Linked DNA regions of Homo sapiens: region 2 is linked to region 1. The links come from fine-mapping of genetic effects on gene expression. Tissue or cell type: whole blood. Region 1 holds a variant in brackets; the other region holds the start of a gene. All regions are shown on one strand. Distances are from middle to middle.

Region 1 (8,000 bases):
CGAGGTCCAACGTGGAGAGCTAGCTGTGTTCTCTCGAAATCTGTCCTGCTGAAACAGCACCCAAAGAGCCTGCTTCAAGCAGATCGACAAATTCTCCCACATGCACACTCACTCACACATTCACTCACTCACACACACTTGCTCACTCCTACTCACTTGCTGCCCAGGGGGCGAGAGGCCTCAGATCCCTGGATTCTGCAGTATGAACAGGGCAACCTCACCAAGCTGACTTCAAGATGAAAGGCTAAGAAAGGAAACAGACGTGCGAGTACACCTGGGAGATTTTCTAGCCCCGTTTTCTGAAGAATCAGGGATTTACAGAAGGTGAGAGTGAAACGGGACCCATGAGATCCTATCAGCTGTCAGACAGAGAAAGAAGCAGAGCCCGGCCGAGGCCATGCAGGGAGGAGAGGCAGAACCAGCAGGGACCCCAGTCTCCTGCGGCCCCAGCCTGCAGCACAGGCAGCCGTGGCTTCATGCTCTCCCATGGGGGCCACACGACTCAGGGCTCACCCACCAGGCACCCTCCTGGTCATTCTCACCATGCTTGGTGGCGCTAGGCACCTTGATGGAGAGAAAAAGGATCATGACCCACGATTCTGGCATCACCACATGCTGTCTCTCAAGGGGCTACCTACTGACAGGTGGGAGAAACCCATCAGCTCGGCGAGAGCCCTCCCCAGCTCCCTGGCCCGATCTTCCCAGGCGGCCCCATGGTTGTCTGTCTCCCTGAGCTACTGACGCAGAAGAGGTCAAAGACTTGGTCATCTTAGAGTCCCTAGAGGGCAGCAGGGGACCTGCCACTGGGGCCTGGGTGAGCACCCAGCAACAGAAGGAATGAAGGGCTGAGCCCCTGTTAGGGCCCTGGGCCTGCAAGCCCATCAGCTCCCTTAAAGGATCAATCATAAATTGATGACAGAAATGAGCCATGGGGTGATGGCCACAGGGGCATCTGGGAGGGCCAGTCTGGAAGGTCGAAGCCAGAGTGGCCATGCGGGACTCTGGGTAGGGACAGAAGAACTGGGTCCGCTCTCACAGAGGCCACGGGACACATTGCTGCTCTGCCTTGAGGTCCACAGGGTCATAAGGCAGGGGTGGAGGGGGTGTAGGTCGCAACACAGGGGTGGAGGGGGTGCGGGTCACGAGGCAGGGGTTGAGGGGGTGCGGGTCACGAGGCGGGGTGGAGGGGGTGCGGGTCACGAGGCAGGGTGGAGGGGGTGCGGGTCACGAGGCGGGGTGGAGGGGGTGTGAGTCACGAGGCGGGGTGGAAGCGGTGCGGGTTACAAGGCGGGGGTGGGTGCTGGTCACGAGGCAGGGTGGAGGGGGTGCGGGTCACGAGGCAGGGGTGGAGGGGGTGCAGGTCGTGAGGCAGGGGTGGAGGGGGTGCGGGTTATGAGGTGGGGTGGAGGGGGTGCAGGTCACGAGGCAGGGGTGGAGGGGGTGCGGATCATGAGGCAAGGGTGAACGGGGTGCGGGTTACGAGGGAGGGTGGAGGGGGTGCGGGTCTTGAGGCGGGGGCGGGTGCTGGTCACAAGGTGGGGTGGAGGGGGTACGGGTCACAAGGCGGGGTGGAGGGGGTGCAGGTCGTGAGGCAGGGGTGGAGGGGGTGCAGGTCACGAGGCGGGGTGGAGGGGGTGCGGGTCACGAGGCAGGGGTGGAGGGGGTGCGGATCATAAGGCAGGGGTGGAGGGGGTGCGGGTCACGAGGCGGGGTGGAGGGGGTGCGGATCATGAAGCAGGGGTGGAGGGGGTGCGGGTCTCGAGGCAGGGGCGGGTGCTGGTCACGAGGGGGGTGGAGGGGGTGCAGGTCGTGAGGCAGGGGTGGAGGGGGTGCAGGTCACAAGGCAAGGGTGGAGGGGGTGTGGGTCACGAGGCAGGGGTGGAGGGGGTGCAGATCATGAGGCAGGGGTGGAGGGGGGTGTGGGTCTCGAGGCAGGGGTGGAGGGTGTGTGGGTCTCGAGGCGGGGATGGGTGCTGGTCATGAGGCAGGGGTGGAGGGAGTATGGGTGACGAAGCAGGGGTGGAGGGGGTGCGGGTCCTAAGCAGGGGGGAGGGGGTGCGGGTCACAAGGCAGGGGTGGAGGGGGGTGTGGGTCACGAGACAGGGGTGGAGGTGGTATGGGTCTCGAGGCGGGGGCGGGTGCTGATCCCGAGGCAGGGACGGAGGGAGTGCAGGTCACGAGGCAGGGGTGGAGGGGGTGCGGGTCTCAAGGTGGGCGCAGGTGCTGGTCACAAGGCAGGGGTGGGGAGGGTGCTGGTCATGAGGCAGGGGTGGAGGGGGTGCAGGTCACAAGGCAGGGGTGGAGGGGGTGCGGGTCACGAGGCAGGGGTGGAGGGGGTGCGGGTCACGAGGCAGGGGTGGAGAGGGTGTGGGTCACGGTCACGAGGCAGGGGTGGAGGGGGTGCGGGTCACGAGGCAGGGGTGGAGGGGGTGCGGGTCACGAGGCAGGGGTGGAGGGGGTGCGGGTCACGAGGCAGGGGTGGAGGGGGTGCTGGTCACGAGGCAGGGGTGGAGGGGGTGGGGGTCCCGAGGCAGGGGTGGAGGGGGTGAGGGTCCCGAAGCAGGAGTGGAGGGGGTGCAAGTCACGAGGCAGGGGTGGAGGGGGTGCAGGTCATGAGGCAGGGGTGGGGGGTGCTGGTCACTCCCTGCTCACCCCCATCCACACTGCCTGGCTCTGAGCCTGGGAGGCTGACTGCCGTAGAACGCAGCATTCAAGATCCAGGGCTTCCAGTTGCACTTGGCCAAGAGGGGTCACTGGCAGGAGACCAGAGGGCAGGAGGAGGGGGGTGGGGTATTTAGTCCCCTCTCTCTCCCTGCTTCAGTGACATGCCTGGGCAGTGGCTGTGGCTTGCTATGACTACCATCACAGAGCTTCTGCGACACTTTCTTCACCTTACCTGCGGCCCAAGAAGCAGAACAGCTCCTCTCTGCTGCCAGGCTCTAGGTGCCTCACCAGCCCCCGCTGCTCCCTTAACCCTGCCCACAGCTCAACAAACAGCCCCTGCTTTCAAGGCTCTCTTTGAACCACTGAGGGTGAGCTCTGCTTCCTGCAAGCTCCCTGGCTAATATGAAGAGGAACACGTTCTGGGTCACCACACATACAGGGTCAGAAGACAGGGAGCAAATTTGAGCCACAGAGACGAGCACAGAACCACCAGGCTACGTGGGCCAGGCATGCACCCTGACCAGGAGAGAGGCCAGGCTGAGGGTACACAGTCTGGAACAGGCGAGTATCAGCATGGGGACAGTGAAACAAGCTCAGGAATGGAGGGGACCCTGCTCTGCTGCAAAAGGCCCATGCTTGCAAGGTATTAGGGGGCTGATTGTGTGGTAGCCTTGGAAAATTCAGGAAGGCCACGGGAGGTTTTTATGAGGAACCAGAGAGGTCTGGTTAGCACTGGGGAAGGGGCAGGGGATGGAAGAGTCAGAGTAGAAAGAGCCTAGGCCATAGGCAACAGCAGATCTGAGTTCAAAGACCCAGAGTGATTGGTGCTTGGAGCTCTGTGACTAGAAATATCACAGAAGCAGGTGACAGATCTGAGCCTCAGTTTCCTCATCTGCAAAATAGGGAGAATAATAAATAGATCCCATCTCACAGAGCTATTATGAGAACTAGGAAGATAAAAGTAAAAAAGTCCAAGGCAGAGGGGGACACAGGCTCCACAATGACAAGGATTTTGGTTCAAGGTCAGGTAGCTGGGGTTCCCTGGAACAGTGACCCACACCCACAACAAAAGTTCCACTCCAAATCTGGACTGGCTCCATACCACTAGGGAATCACTGGAGGGATCACTCCAAAAGACAACTTAACATGCAAGCTGGTGTTTGATACTCTTCAGAAATTAACTTTCCGGACTGCAATTCCCCAAATGACTCCTAACCCTCCACCACTAGCTGCAGATTCCTCAACACAGATCTGGGGCCAGGCTGTGTGATAAGTACTTTGACACTGTATCTCAATTACCCTTCTTAACCTTAGAGGTTGGTGTTACGACAACCCCTTTTTCCAGGCAAGGAGGCTGAAGCACCCTCGGTGCTGGGAAGAAGCAAGACCAGAGGCCACCCGGGGACCACCCACCTCCTCCAGAGCCCACCACTCCTTCCTCCTCTCCCTGGGGTGAGGAACAATTGCAAGGGGAGAAAAGTCCATGGGCACAGCTGCGGCTAGGCTACAGCCCCCAGCCTCATGGGCAGAGAGAGTGGGTCTGGGGCAGGAGTGAGAAAGGAGGGGAGGGAGGGCACATGAGAGAGAAATGAGTTGCTGTATGCGTGCCTGGTGCACAGGTGATAACACAGCATTCAAATCTAGAAGCACAAACTCCCACAAGACCTTCCCTTTCTGTAATTCCCCAAAATGCAGGGGTTTGTTTATTTCACCAAGAAGTACATATTCCTCCTACAGACTACAAAAACAATATATACAACTTACTTATGTAACCCAAAGAAATAATCATCACAGGCTTGCCCAAACAGTATCAAAAGTGGATGTTTATCACAATACTATTTATAAAGGTGACAGACCAGAACCATGGTCAGCATCAACCAAGGGAATCAAAGAACTTCAGTTACAATCAGATAATATTATGCAGTCATTTAAAAAGCAAGCCTAAGTAGACATTTAACAAAGG[G/A]GGAAGCTCTAAGAGAATGCTAAGTGTGTTTGTGGGAACAGATTACAACAGAACCACAACTTTGTTTACAACTATGTCAAGGCTGGTGGCTCGCGCCTGTAATCCCAACACTTTTAGAAGCCGAGGCGGGCAGATCACTTGAGGTCAGGAGTTCAAGACCACCCTGGCCAACACGGTGAAACCCCATCACTACTAAAAATACAAAAATTAGCCAGGCATGGTGGCGCGTGCCTGTAATCTCAGTTACTCTGGGGTCTGAGACAGGAAAATCGCTTGAACCTGGGAGGCGGAGGTTGCAGCGAGCCAAGATCGAGCCATTGCACTCCAGCCTGGGCGACAGAGCGAGATTCCATCTCAAAAAAAAAACTGCATCAAAGATGTTGGTGCACACCATGGTCCCAGCTACTAAGAAGGCTGAGGTGGGAGGATTGCTTGAGCCCAGGAGTTCAAAGCTGCAGCAAGCTATGATCGCACCACTACACTCCAGCCTGAGTGACAGAGCAAAACCCCATCTCTAAAAAAAGTTTAATTAAAAAAAAAAGTTTTTTTAATGCATCAGTGTGTGTGCCATTTTTATGCTCAAAGGACATGAATAAAGTCACACTTTATTCACATTTTAGTGTGCTGGTTATCCTTCGGCTAGGGAGTAACACATTTTGTTCCCACAAGCTACACAGGAGGCTCTCCAGACCTTCCTGAAAGGCACTTTCAAACCTGCTTCTGGAGGGTCAGAACATCATGCAGGACAGAGGTCAGGCACTAGCAGGAGGCCCTGGTCCCACGGCAGGTCTGTGCTATTTGAAGTCGTAAAGCAGGTCAATGGTGGCCCAGTGTGAGGGGCTGCAGGGGCTGCCAGGCTCACAGTCAAGGCCAGGGCCTGGCCTACCATACACCAAGGCGTTTCATCTTCTCCCCAAGAAGATATACTGGGTGGGCAGGGGTCCTTGTCCCTGATGGACAAAGGAAGGCACTGAGGGCTCAGACAGCAAAAATAACCGAGGGTCCTGAGCGATCCGGCGGAATATTTGGTCGACAGGAAAACTCATCAAGTCCTGCCCTCACCAGGCCCCAAAGCCCTGGCTTAAGGGAGGGCCAGGCCTGGCATTTGTCAAGATTTAACAAGTTCAGTAAATGTGCGCCCCCACCCCACCCCCATCTCCCATCTCTCTCCCACGCCAGACCCTTCTCCAAGCCCCACTCCTTGGCCATTAGCTCAGTCCCAAAGGCATCCTTGCCCATCCCGGCTGCCGATGATCCTGTCAAAACACTGTAAATAACTTATTTCTACTTGGCAGGGCCTGCGGCAAAAATACTGCCTGGGCAAGGAAGGGAGTGAGCCAAGGTCTGCCTCCAAGCCAGGACCCACACCCTCCTGCCCAGGGACCCCTGGTCCCCCACCCACCTGAGATGGCAGAGACCCACAGTGGAGGCCAAACTCCTGCCCAGTGAGACAGGGGTGTGAGCTTCACAAGACCCCTCGAGTCATCTCAGGAGCCAGAAAACCAGTGAGCTTCCCACTCCCCACAGCCCCACACAGCACACTAAGCCCTGTCCCTGACCTCAGGCTACCCACGCTTCTCCTACGAGGGCCTGAGTTTTAGAAGGCCTTCTCACTTGCCCTCCCCTCGTCTCAATCATCCATCTCATCACCATCTGGTAGATGGGCCTCAGAGAGGTTGTGCCACTACCCAGGACTGCACAGCCTTGGAGGGATGGAGCTGGAACTAGGGAGGAGTCACTGGACTCTCACCAGGCAGGCAGTCTTCGGAGCAGAAGAGGCACTGGCTATGCCATCACACCTCTAGAATCCAATCCCAGCTCCACAGCTCACATGCTAGGCTGTGACAAGCCCACCTGTGTGAGCCTCAGTCCTCTCACCTGGCAAGTGGGGCACTAACCCTGGCACTCAGTAGACGAGGCACACACAGGAGTTCTCACTGCTGCTGCCTGGGCTGCTCATAGAAGCCCAGCCCAGACGCCAAACGCACTTTGGAATTTTTACATGCGCATTCTAGAACTCTGAAGCAATCCTACTAGGTGCTTACTGCCCAGACAACAGGGCTGGTGACCTTTAAAAAAAAAAAATTGGCCGGGCATGGTGGCTCACACCTGTAATCCCAGCACTTTGGGAGGCCAAGGTGGGTGGATCACGAGGTCAGGAGATTGAGACCATCCTGGCTAACATGGTGAAACCCTGTCTCTACCAAAAATACAAAAAATTAGCCGGGCGTGGTGGCGGGCACCTGTAGTCCCAGCTACTTGGGAGGCTGAGGCAGAAGAATGGCGTGAACGTGGGAGGCAGAGCTTGCAGTGAGCCGAGGTCGCGCCACTGCACTCCAGCCTGGGCGACAGAGCGAGACTCCATCTCAAAAAATAAAAATTAAAATTTTCGTAGAGATGGGGTCTCACTATGTCGCCCAGGCTGGTCTTGAACTCCAGGCTTCAAGCAATTCTCCTGCCTTGGCCTCTCAAAGTGTTGGGATTACAGACACAGGCCATCATGCCTGGCTGCTGGTGGCCTTCCTGCAGAGAATCCAGGAGCTCTAAATGTTCCCCCAGGACACCTGATCAAAGCCCCCTCTCAGGCCTCTGTACCCCATTCCCACCGGAACCCTGGGAGCCACCCCAGGCGGCTTCTGTAGAAGTGCTGAGTGAGCCCCATGCACCACCGCCAAGTTTCTGGGACACAGCTGCAGGGCCGGGCACCAGCAAGCCGGGATCTCCTTATAGGGTATACTCTAAGGCCATTGCATAAAGCTCAAAAAGAGAAAGACTCAGATTGACAGTCGAGCTGGAAAACAGGCCTGTGAAAGGAGAACTAGACACCAGGGCAATCAGGTCCCTGAAAGGGCTGTCTCTGCCTACCATTTGTGCAGAACATCAGAGAACTTGAGGCAAAGACGGGAGCCACTGTGCTTCCCAGGGGAGTTCTTGAGCTGAGGGTGGATCAAGGGGAAGGAGAAAGACAGAGCCAAGTTACAACTCTGGATTTACACAGCTTTTGGAAAAGTCACGATGAGTGTGCGGGGAATCCCTGGGACCTCCCCTGCCCATAATGAACTAGCACGGGAGGGGGTCATGGGGCTAGGGTCAGGGGTCAGCACTCCCTGGGGGTGATGCCTTCACCCCATCATGGCTAGACCTGGGGAGATCCAGAAAGAAGGAAAACATAAATCAGCCCATGCCCCCAAATGCACCCCAGCCAGAGCAAAATCTGCTCTAACCCCAGAGGACAAGCTGGGACCTCACTCACTCACAGCAGGAGACTCATCCCTGGTCAGCCCTGCTTTAGCCAAACCAAACAGACATAACTTATGCTACAGACATTTCTGGCTTTTTTACTCATGAAAATAAATCAAACAGAAGAGATCCT
Region 2 (8,000 bases), 55 kb after region 1:
ACAAACAAGTGGATTCAAAGGCCCATCTGCTGGCTAGCAGAGCCCCATCCTATCAGAGTGCACATCTGAAAAGGCTGGCGCCTGTCCCTACCTACGGCAGGTGGGGCACTTCATGGCCCATGAAGTGGCTCTAACCACCCACTGTTGCCATCAACGTGCACTACCCCCCAAACCCTCCCCCCAAGACAAGGATTACACTTGCAGAGGGGCTCAGCTTTGCAAGGAATGTGTCCTGGGGGCTAAATAGCAGCCACCAGACCCCTGGAAAGATAATGAGGGAGACTGCCTTATTGTCGGAGATGCCCAATCAGAAAGGCAATCTCAAGGTAGCCAGGTTGGACCCATTCTAGAAGTTAAAGGAAAAGACCAAGAGTCCGGAACCTGCCCCCTCTCTTGATGGGTTTCCCCATCTGTAAGACAAAGGGGCTAGATGAGATGATGGCCAACATCTCTTCCTGCTCTGAGATCAGATTTTTACAAGGCCGGACATTCAGCTAAACAACCCACCCCGGGCCGGACCATTCGGGTCATTCTTTGCCCAAACATTAAGAGCAGGGCCATTTTTTTTTTTTTTTTTTTTGAGATGGAGTCTCGCTCTGTCACCCAAGCTAGAGTGCAGTGGCACCATCTCGACTTACTGCAACCTCTGCCTCCCGGGTTCAAGTGATTCTCCTGCCTCAGCCTCCTGAGTAGCTGGGACTACAGGCGCCTGCCATCATGCCCGGCTAATTTTTGTATTTTTAGTAGAGATGGGGTTTCACCATGTTAGCCAGGATGGTCTCGATCTCCTGACCTCGTGACCCACCCACCTTGGACTCCCAAAGTGCTGGGATTACAGACAGAAGACACGGCACCCGGCCCAAAGCAGGGCCATTTTCAAATACCTTTAGACTTTTTCATTAGGGAATTCATAGACAATTCATCACCCGTCGTCAGTACAGAAGCCCTGCGCCCCCAGATTCTGAATGTGGAAAACATGATAATGTCCTTTGCACTGTCTCTCAGCCACTAAAGTCTCATTGGCCCTCACACCAAACAAAACAACCTCACGGGGCTCCCTGGTCACTGGCTCAACAGTTGCAGCATTTTGCAGCCAGTATAGAAATGTGGCCACCAGGGGGCACTGCCCTGAAAGTAATAAATAAGAAACGGAAAAACTCTTTGGTGTTTTCTTTTCCTTCTTAGGCTTAAGTGATAAAATATCTAAAGCTTCCCTAGTGAAAACACAAAGTGGGCTTCCTCGGGTTCTAGAATGGCCCTGATGACTTCTGCCTTCTTTGAAGCCAATATTTTGGCCAAAGGAAGGCAACTAGACTTTGAAGACAACAACTCTTTCAGAGAAAGTAATGCTCTACTCCCCAGAACGTTGATAGCATAGCTTGCTCTGAACCTCCCACCCCTTTAAAGGAAGAATGTCTACAAGGTCAAGCCAATCTGCAGGTCCAGCACGAGGACCTAGTTGTGAGTCTCGGCGAAGAATATTTTGCGAGAGCCTCCTAATTACCAAGCAAAACAAGCCAACCCAATGACAAGCCTCAAGCTTGAGTTGCAGACACAAGATGACATAAATACAGACAGCAGTACAAAGGGTGCGAGGTATTCGCTGGGATTTCCCAAGTCTTACATGACTGCAGGGGGAGCTCCGGTGCCTCACATCAGAACTGGACTTCGAGAACATGCCAAAGCAGCTGCTCCAAATTTCTTTAGTGTCTTAGAATGCCCTTCCCACAAGTGAGTGTATCCGCGGTACAACGTTCAAGTACCCTTTTGTAATGTTCCAAGGGTCCTAAGACTCATTTTCAAAGCTCTGGCTTCGAGCTCCTCCTGATTTCTTCATGAATTGCTGGGGCCACTCTGCATGCCCTATTGATCATGAAGAGCCTGTCTTCTAGGGAAACCGGCCTGGGAGAAGGCAGCCAACCCCATCCCCAGACCAAGGGATAAAGAACCAGGCACTATCCTGTACAAGCTGTGCCCCTCTGGCTGCAGGAAGAGCGCCTGCGGGGCTTGCACGGGGCAAAGGAGCAGCAGGCCCTTGGGAAAGGCATGAGGCACACAGAGGTGCTGCCAGGCTCACCTGCGCATGCCAGCTCAGACCAGCCACGGGCCCCCAGGAGCACCAGGGGTTACGGAAACCCAACTGTTCAATTCTCCAAGATGTGTGGGGCCCCCACAGGGACAAAAATGCAAGTAGAGCCCATTTTCAAAAATCAGTCTAACAAGCTGCATCACAAAAGGTTTCCACCTGGAGTTTGCAAAAGGCTTTCAGAGCTAGATTCTCTTAGGCTTGCATTGAGAAAAGGGCTTAACTGCTTCTCAGAGGCAAAGCTACAGTTGTGGAGCAAGGGAAGGCCTACCTGACCCAAGACTCAGTAGTTCTGTAATTTATTAAGAACGTGATCTGTTAAACACCGGAGACTCCGCCAAGGAGCACCAGCATGGTGGGAGCAGGGGCACACAGCCCAGATGGCAGAAGGCCACTCCACACCACGGGCATTTACCCAGCACTTTCTACGCACCAGCCACTCCCTAGCTGCGGGACCCCAAGCTAGGTACCCCGCTCCTCTGCCGATCGGTCCCCGTTCTCAGACAGGTGGCCCAGAATCACCACCCTGGCCAATTTGCAGGGCTGCTGCGAGGCTCTAATGAGACAGCAAATCACCACATACATGCCAAGAATTGCTACTCGCTTCAACTGGGCTTAACCTCATGATATGCAATGACAGCCTCAAGAGCCGAGCACACGCGGGGCACATAGTAGGTGGTCCACAAACGTGGGTGCCCTTTCTTCATGAAAGGGAAGGGGACGAAGGAAGAAAAACACTCCGGTCCAAAAGTACCCTCAAGCCCTTACCCCACAGCGTGGATGCCCCGATTTCCCAGGTCCCTCCGCAACCCTCAGTAGAACTCCCACCGCGCCCTGGGCTGCTGGGGGCCTCCCCAGCCGGGTCACAGTGCACCTGAACGCCCCGGTCCGTGCCACCTCGCCCGCACCGGCCACCGCTTCCCTGGAACGCGGCCGGCGGCCGCCACCGCCACCTGGCTGCTCGGACTCAGTCTCCCCGCGCGCCGCTTCTTCCCGTTTGGCTCCGATCTCCCAAAACAACTAATGAGGCTGCACCGGGCTCGGGCCGGGGGTCACCGGGCTCGGGCCGGGGGTCCCCGGGCGCCGGCGCCGCGTCCCTCCTTACCTGCACAGCTCGGCGAAGGCCTGGAAATTCAGCTTCTTGATTTTCTTCTCGCTCAGCCAGTAGCCAACTCTCTTCCCTTTCAGAAAGGTCTGCATCTTCCTCCTCGGGCGGGGAGCCTGGGTCCGGAGGAAATCGCCCACAGGCCGAGTCTGGCGGCCGGCGCGCGCCGCGAGCGAGTGGGCACCTCCTCCCGGCGGCGGGGACGCGGAACGGGGATCGGAGCTGGGGCGCGCAGTCCTGCCGCGCGGAGCGGAGCGGGGCGGGGCGCGGCGGGCGGCCGGGAGGAGGGAGCGGCGCTCAGCGCGGAAGGCCACTGGCTGGGCCAAGCTGCCACCGCCCACGCCCCCGCCGCCTGCGGGCTCGCCCGCCCGCCCACCGGCTCGCGAGCGCCGCGCCGCCCGGCCTGCCGGCTGAGGCTGGGGCACGGCTGAGCCTGAGTCTGAGTCGGAGCTGGGGCCAGGGCCCGCAGGAGGGGAAGCCGGGCCTCCGCAGACACCGCCCCCGCCCTGCCCGCCCTCCCGCCGCGCGGGCCCGAGCCACACGCCCTCAGGCGGCGGCAGAAGCGCGGCCTCCGAGCCCTTCCTCCCTCCTCCTCCCGCCCGGGTCCTCGCCCTCTGATGTTCCCAGCCGGGCCGTAACCCCTGGGCGCGCTTGGACCCCGGCGGGGCGCACGCGGCCACTCGGCCCGGCCAGAGATCCTCACCCGCCGCCGCCGCCGCCACTTCCTCCTCGGCCTGGTCCTCGCGCGCTGCCCGCCGAGAAGGGCGGCGGCGAGCGCCCGCGCACTCGCCGCCCCTGCCCGCCGCCGCCCCGCGCTGGCCCGGCCGCCCCGCTTGAGCCCGCGGCGGCGAGGAAGCGGCGGGGCGGCCGCCAGGGGGCAGCGCCGCCCGCCGCCTCTTAAAGGCGCCGCGCCGGCCCTCGCGGCTACCCGGCGCCTGTTTGTGTCCCCGGGTGTGGGGTGCGGGGCGCGGGGCTTCCTGGGGGCGGCCGTGGCCCGGCGGTCTTACTTCGGGAAGGGAGCCGCGGTGTGGGCGTGTGTTCCGCCTGGCCTTTGGGGGCGACCGAGCCGCTGAGTTTCGGAAACGTCTCTGTACCCCCAGCAGGGTTCAGCACCCCCAAGGCAATCCATTGCAACTGCGCCCGGAAGGAGACCTTCCAGGAATTCGCCCCTTCCCTCGAGGAAGCGGACCCTGGCCCAGGATGGGGCCCCCCGGGGGGGTGGGTGAACACCCAGGGGCCCTCCTAGGCGTAGGACGTGACCACCAGTTCTCACTCTAGGTCCCCTTCACTGAGGGGGGAAGGGGCGGGGACTGGAGGCGACAGCGACAACAGCGGCCGTCCCCGGAGACCCCTTCCTCAGGGGTGCGGGTCAGCGTCGGCGCCGGGGAGTCACTAAACCCCGCCTACCCTGCCCTGCCCTATGGGGCAGCCAGGGAGCTTTCCTGCCTCAATGGTCTCTGGGTTTGGGAAGGAGAAATGGACTTCTCTCCCCAGGCCCAGGCAGGAAAAATGGATTCCCGTGGAGGGAAGGCTCAGAAAAGTTTGAGAGGAGACACTGAAGCTGGCCTTGGAAATCAAGGAGATTTTGATGGAGCAGGGAAGGGGGATGAGCTTGAATTGAGGCTGGGAGACAAGAAAAAGCCAAGTTGCCAGCGGGTGACCAAGACTTCCCTTGATCACACTTGAGTCAGGCTCCTCCGAGACCTCTTTCTGACCAGGCCCCGACCTTGGGCTCTGTCCTTGGCCTTCTTAGTCCAGTTTTAGCCAGAATCCTGCTGTCAAGAATATCTCCACGCTTGGTATGTGATCACCCTGGCCGGCCTACATTAAGAAACTCCGTCTCAAAAAAAAAAGAAAGACAAGGATCTCTCTATGCTGCCCAGGCTGGAGTGCAATGGTGCAGTCATAGCTCACTGCAGCCTCGAACACCCCTGCTAAACTGATCCTCCCACCTCAGCCTCCCGAGCAGCTGGGACTACACTGTGTTGCCCAGGCAGGTCTCGAACTCCTGGCCTCAAGCTGTCCTCCCACCTGGGCCTCCCAAAGTGCTGGGATTGTAGACCTGAGCCACCCCGCCTGGCTTCCCTGCCATCTTTAACGAGAATCTGATTAGTTTTTTTCTTTAACAAGGTAGAGAAAACGGATGGATGGAGAGTGGAAAAGACGATGGGTGGGAAACAGGACTCCTCCAGGGGGCCAGCTAGGGACGGGCACTGCATGCCTTAGGCAAGGGTACTGCGAGTTTCATAGGCCATGGGAGCCTAGAAGGTAAGTGGTGACAGGTTCCAGGGTCAGCTCTGTGGCTTAGAATGCCTGGCTCCTGGGGGGGACATGGAAAGCTGGATAAAGGGAAGATCATAGCAAGGACCCCTAGGGCCGAGGCACAAGATGGATAAAAGAAGGCTAAGGGAGGCTGCGCATGGTGGCTCATGCCTGTAATCCCAGCACTTTGGGAGGCCGAGGTGGGCACATCATGAGGTCAGGAGATTGAGATCATCCTGGCTAACACGGTGAAACCCTGTCTCTACTAAAAATACAAAAAATTAGCCGGGCGTGGTGGCGGGCGCCTGTAGTCCCAGCTACTTGGGAGGCTAAGGCAGGAGAATGGCGTGAACCTGGGAGGCAGAGCTGGCAGTGAGCTGAGATCGTGCCACTGCACTCTAGCCTGGGCAACAGAGTGAGACTCCGTCTCAAAAAAAAAAAAAAAAAAAGAAGGCGGCTAAGGGAGTAAAAACGAAGGGGATGGGGGCAGCAACTATAAACTTGATACTTGAAGTCAGCAGTAGGGATTACAGGCATCGACTTTAAATGTCCTGCTGTTCTTAGGAACTGAAAGACCAGTTGAGGCTGGGTGGTTCAGGAGGGTTCCTGGAATTCCCTCACTCCTTTGGCAAACACACGAGAGCCCAGTGTGTGGCAGAGGAAAATGGACACAAGCCATTGATTAGAAACACGGGATGAGGCTGGGCGCTGGGAGGCCGAAGCAGGCGGATCACCTGAGATCAGGAGTTCGAGGCCAGCCTGACCAACATGGAGAAACCCCATCTCTACTAAAAATACAAAATTAGGTGGGCATGGTGGCGCATGCCTGTAATCCCAGCTACTTGGGAGGCTGAGGCAGGAGAATCGCTTGAACCAGAGAGGCGGAGGTTGCGGTCAGCCGAGGTCGCGCCATTGCACTCCAGCCTGGGCGGCAAGGGCAAAACTCCATCTCAAAAACAAAAAAAAGAAAGAAAAAAGGAAACGTGGGGTGAGAGCTGAGAGGGAAATGGGAAGGAAGATGGCAATCTGTCCCATTTTGCTGCATGACTGGGGAGACTGTGGCATAGGATCTTGAAGGATGAGTAGGAAGGAGTTCAGTGGGGGAAGGAGGCAACATTCCAGGCAAAGGCGAAAACAGGTGCGAAGTTTCAGAGGGTGAAAAGGGAAGAACACCGTAAATAAGGGCACGGTAAGATGGAGATGGGCAGGAAGATGAGGCCTGAGAAATGGACCAGGGGAACTTGGGAGGGATGCTGAAGACAGTGTGTGTGTGGTCACTTCTGAACAGGAGCTGGATGAAGTTCTTTTTTTTTCTTAATATTATTTTATTTTATCTTATTTTATTATTTTATTTTATTTTATTTTTTGAAATGGAGTCTTGTTGTGTCATCCAGGCTGGAGTCCAGTGCACCTCCCGGGTTCAAGCGATTCTCCTGCCTTGACCTCCCGGTAGCTGGGACTATTGGCACGTGTCACCACGCCCAGCTAATTTTTGTATTTTTTTTTTTTTTTGAGACGGAGTCTTGCTTTGTTGCCCAGACTGGAGTGCAGTGGCGCAATCTCGGCTCACTGCAAGCTCCACCTCCCGGGTTCATGCCATTCTCCTGCCTCAGCCTCCTGAGTAGCTGGGACTACAGGCGCCCGCCACCACGCCCGGCTAATTTTTTGTATTTTTAGTAGAGATGGGGTTTCACCGTGTTAACCAGGCTGGTCTCAAACTCCTGACCTCAAGTGATCTGCCTGCCTCGACCTCCCAAAGTGCTGGGATTACAGGCATGAGCCACCATGCCTGGCCTGGATGAAGTTCTTTTGGTATCTTCATCTGTAAAGTGGGGATAGATGCCCCACCCAGAGCTGTTGAGAAGATTTAAAGGGCCAGCAGAGAACTTGCCTGGAGGACAAAGTATATACAAGGGCATGGCCATCCTCAGGCTCACAGGAAGCCCCTTATTTAGGGCTCACCCCAGGGCCCTGCATCCTTCCCCTGATTACAGCCTCCCCCAAACCATTCTTCCTTCTGGCCTTCTGAGTTGGAGCTAGGTAAGGCTCGTCCTCACTGGGACTTCCAAGGTGAACACAAATGTCCTCTGTCTCTAGCTCTCAACTCGACCACTCACTTGCTATGTGACCTTGTAGGCCACTTAGCCTATCGAGGCCTCAGATCCTCTATCTTACTTCATAAGGTAAACCTTGCTCCATGACAGGAGTTGAAAATACAGCCAGGTGGGGTGGTGCACACCTGTAGTACCAACTACTTGGGAGGCTGAGATGGGACGATCGCTTGAGCCCAGGAGTTCGAGGCTGTAGTGCACGATTATCATACCTATGAATAGCCTCCACACTCCAGCCTGGGCAACATAGCGAGACCTCATGTCTAATAAATAAAAATTTAAAAGGCTGGGAATGGCGGCACACCTGTAGTCCCAGCTACTCAGGAGGCTGCAGCAGGAGGATTTCTTGAGCCCAGGAGTTTCAGGCCATCCTGGGCAATACTATGAGACCACATCTCAAATAAATAAATAAATAAACCTGCAACCCTCGTTTGCC

Evidence for each region. PIP is the estimated chance that this variant, and not a neighbour inherited with it, causes the effect.
Region 2: it holds the start of ITPK1, and the variant in region 1 is fine-mapped to the expression of ITPK1 in whole blood (TOPMed, PIP above 0.99).

Annotation. Positions count from the first base shown.
Region 1 is chr14:93,057,288-93,065,287 of GRCh38, forward strand. The region is part of intron 3 of ITPK1 (inositol-tetrakisphosphate 1-kinase); the gene reads right to left. Among named protein-coding and RNA genes, the nearest start is that of ITPK1-AS1, 6.2 kb to the right of the region's middle. The variant G/A (reference allele first, on the strand shown) is at 4,628.
Region 2 is chr14:93,111,878-93,119,877 of GRCh38, forward strand. ITPK1 (inositol-tetrakisphosphate 1-kinase) reads right to left here and starts at 4,048. Exons shown (of 11, transcript NM_014216.6): 1 at 3,895-4,048; 2 at 3,192-3,428. The coding sequence starts at 3,286.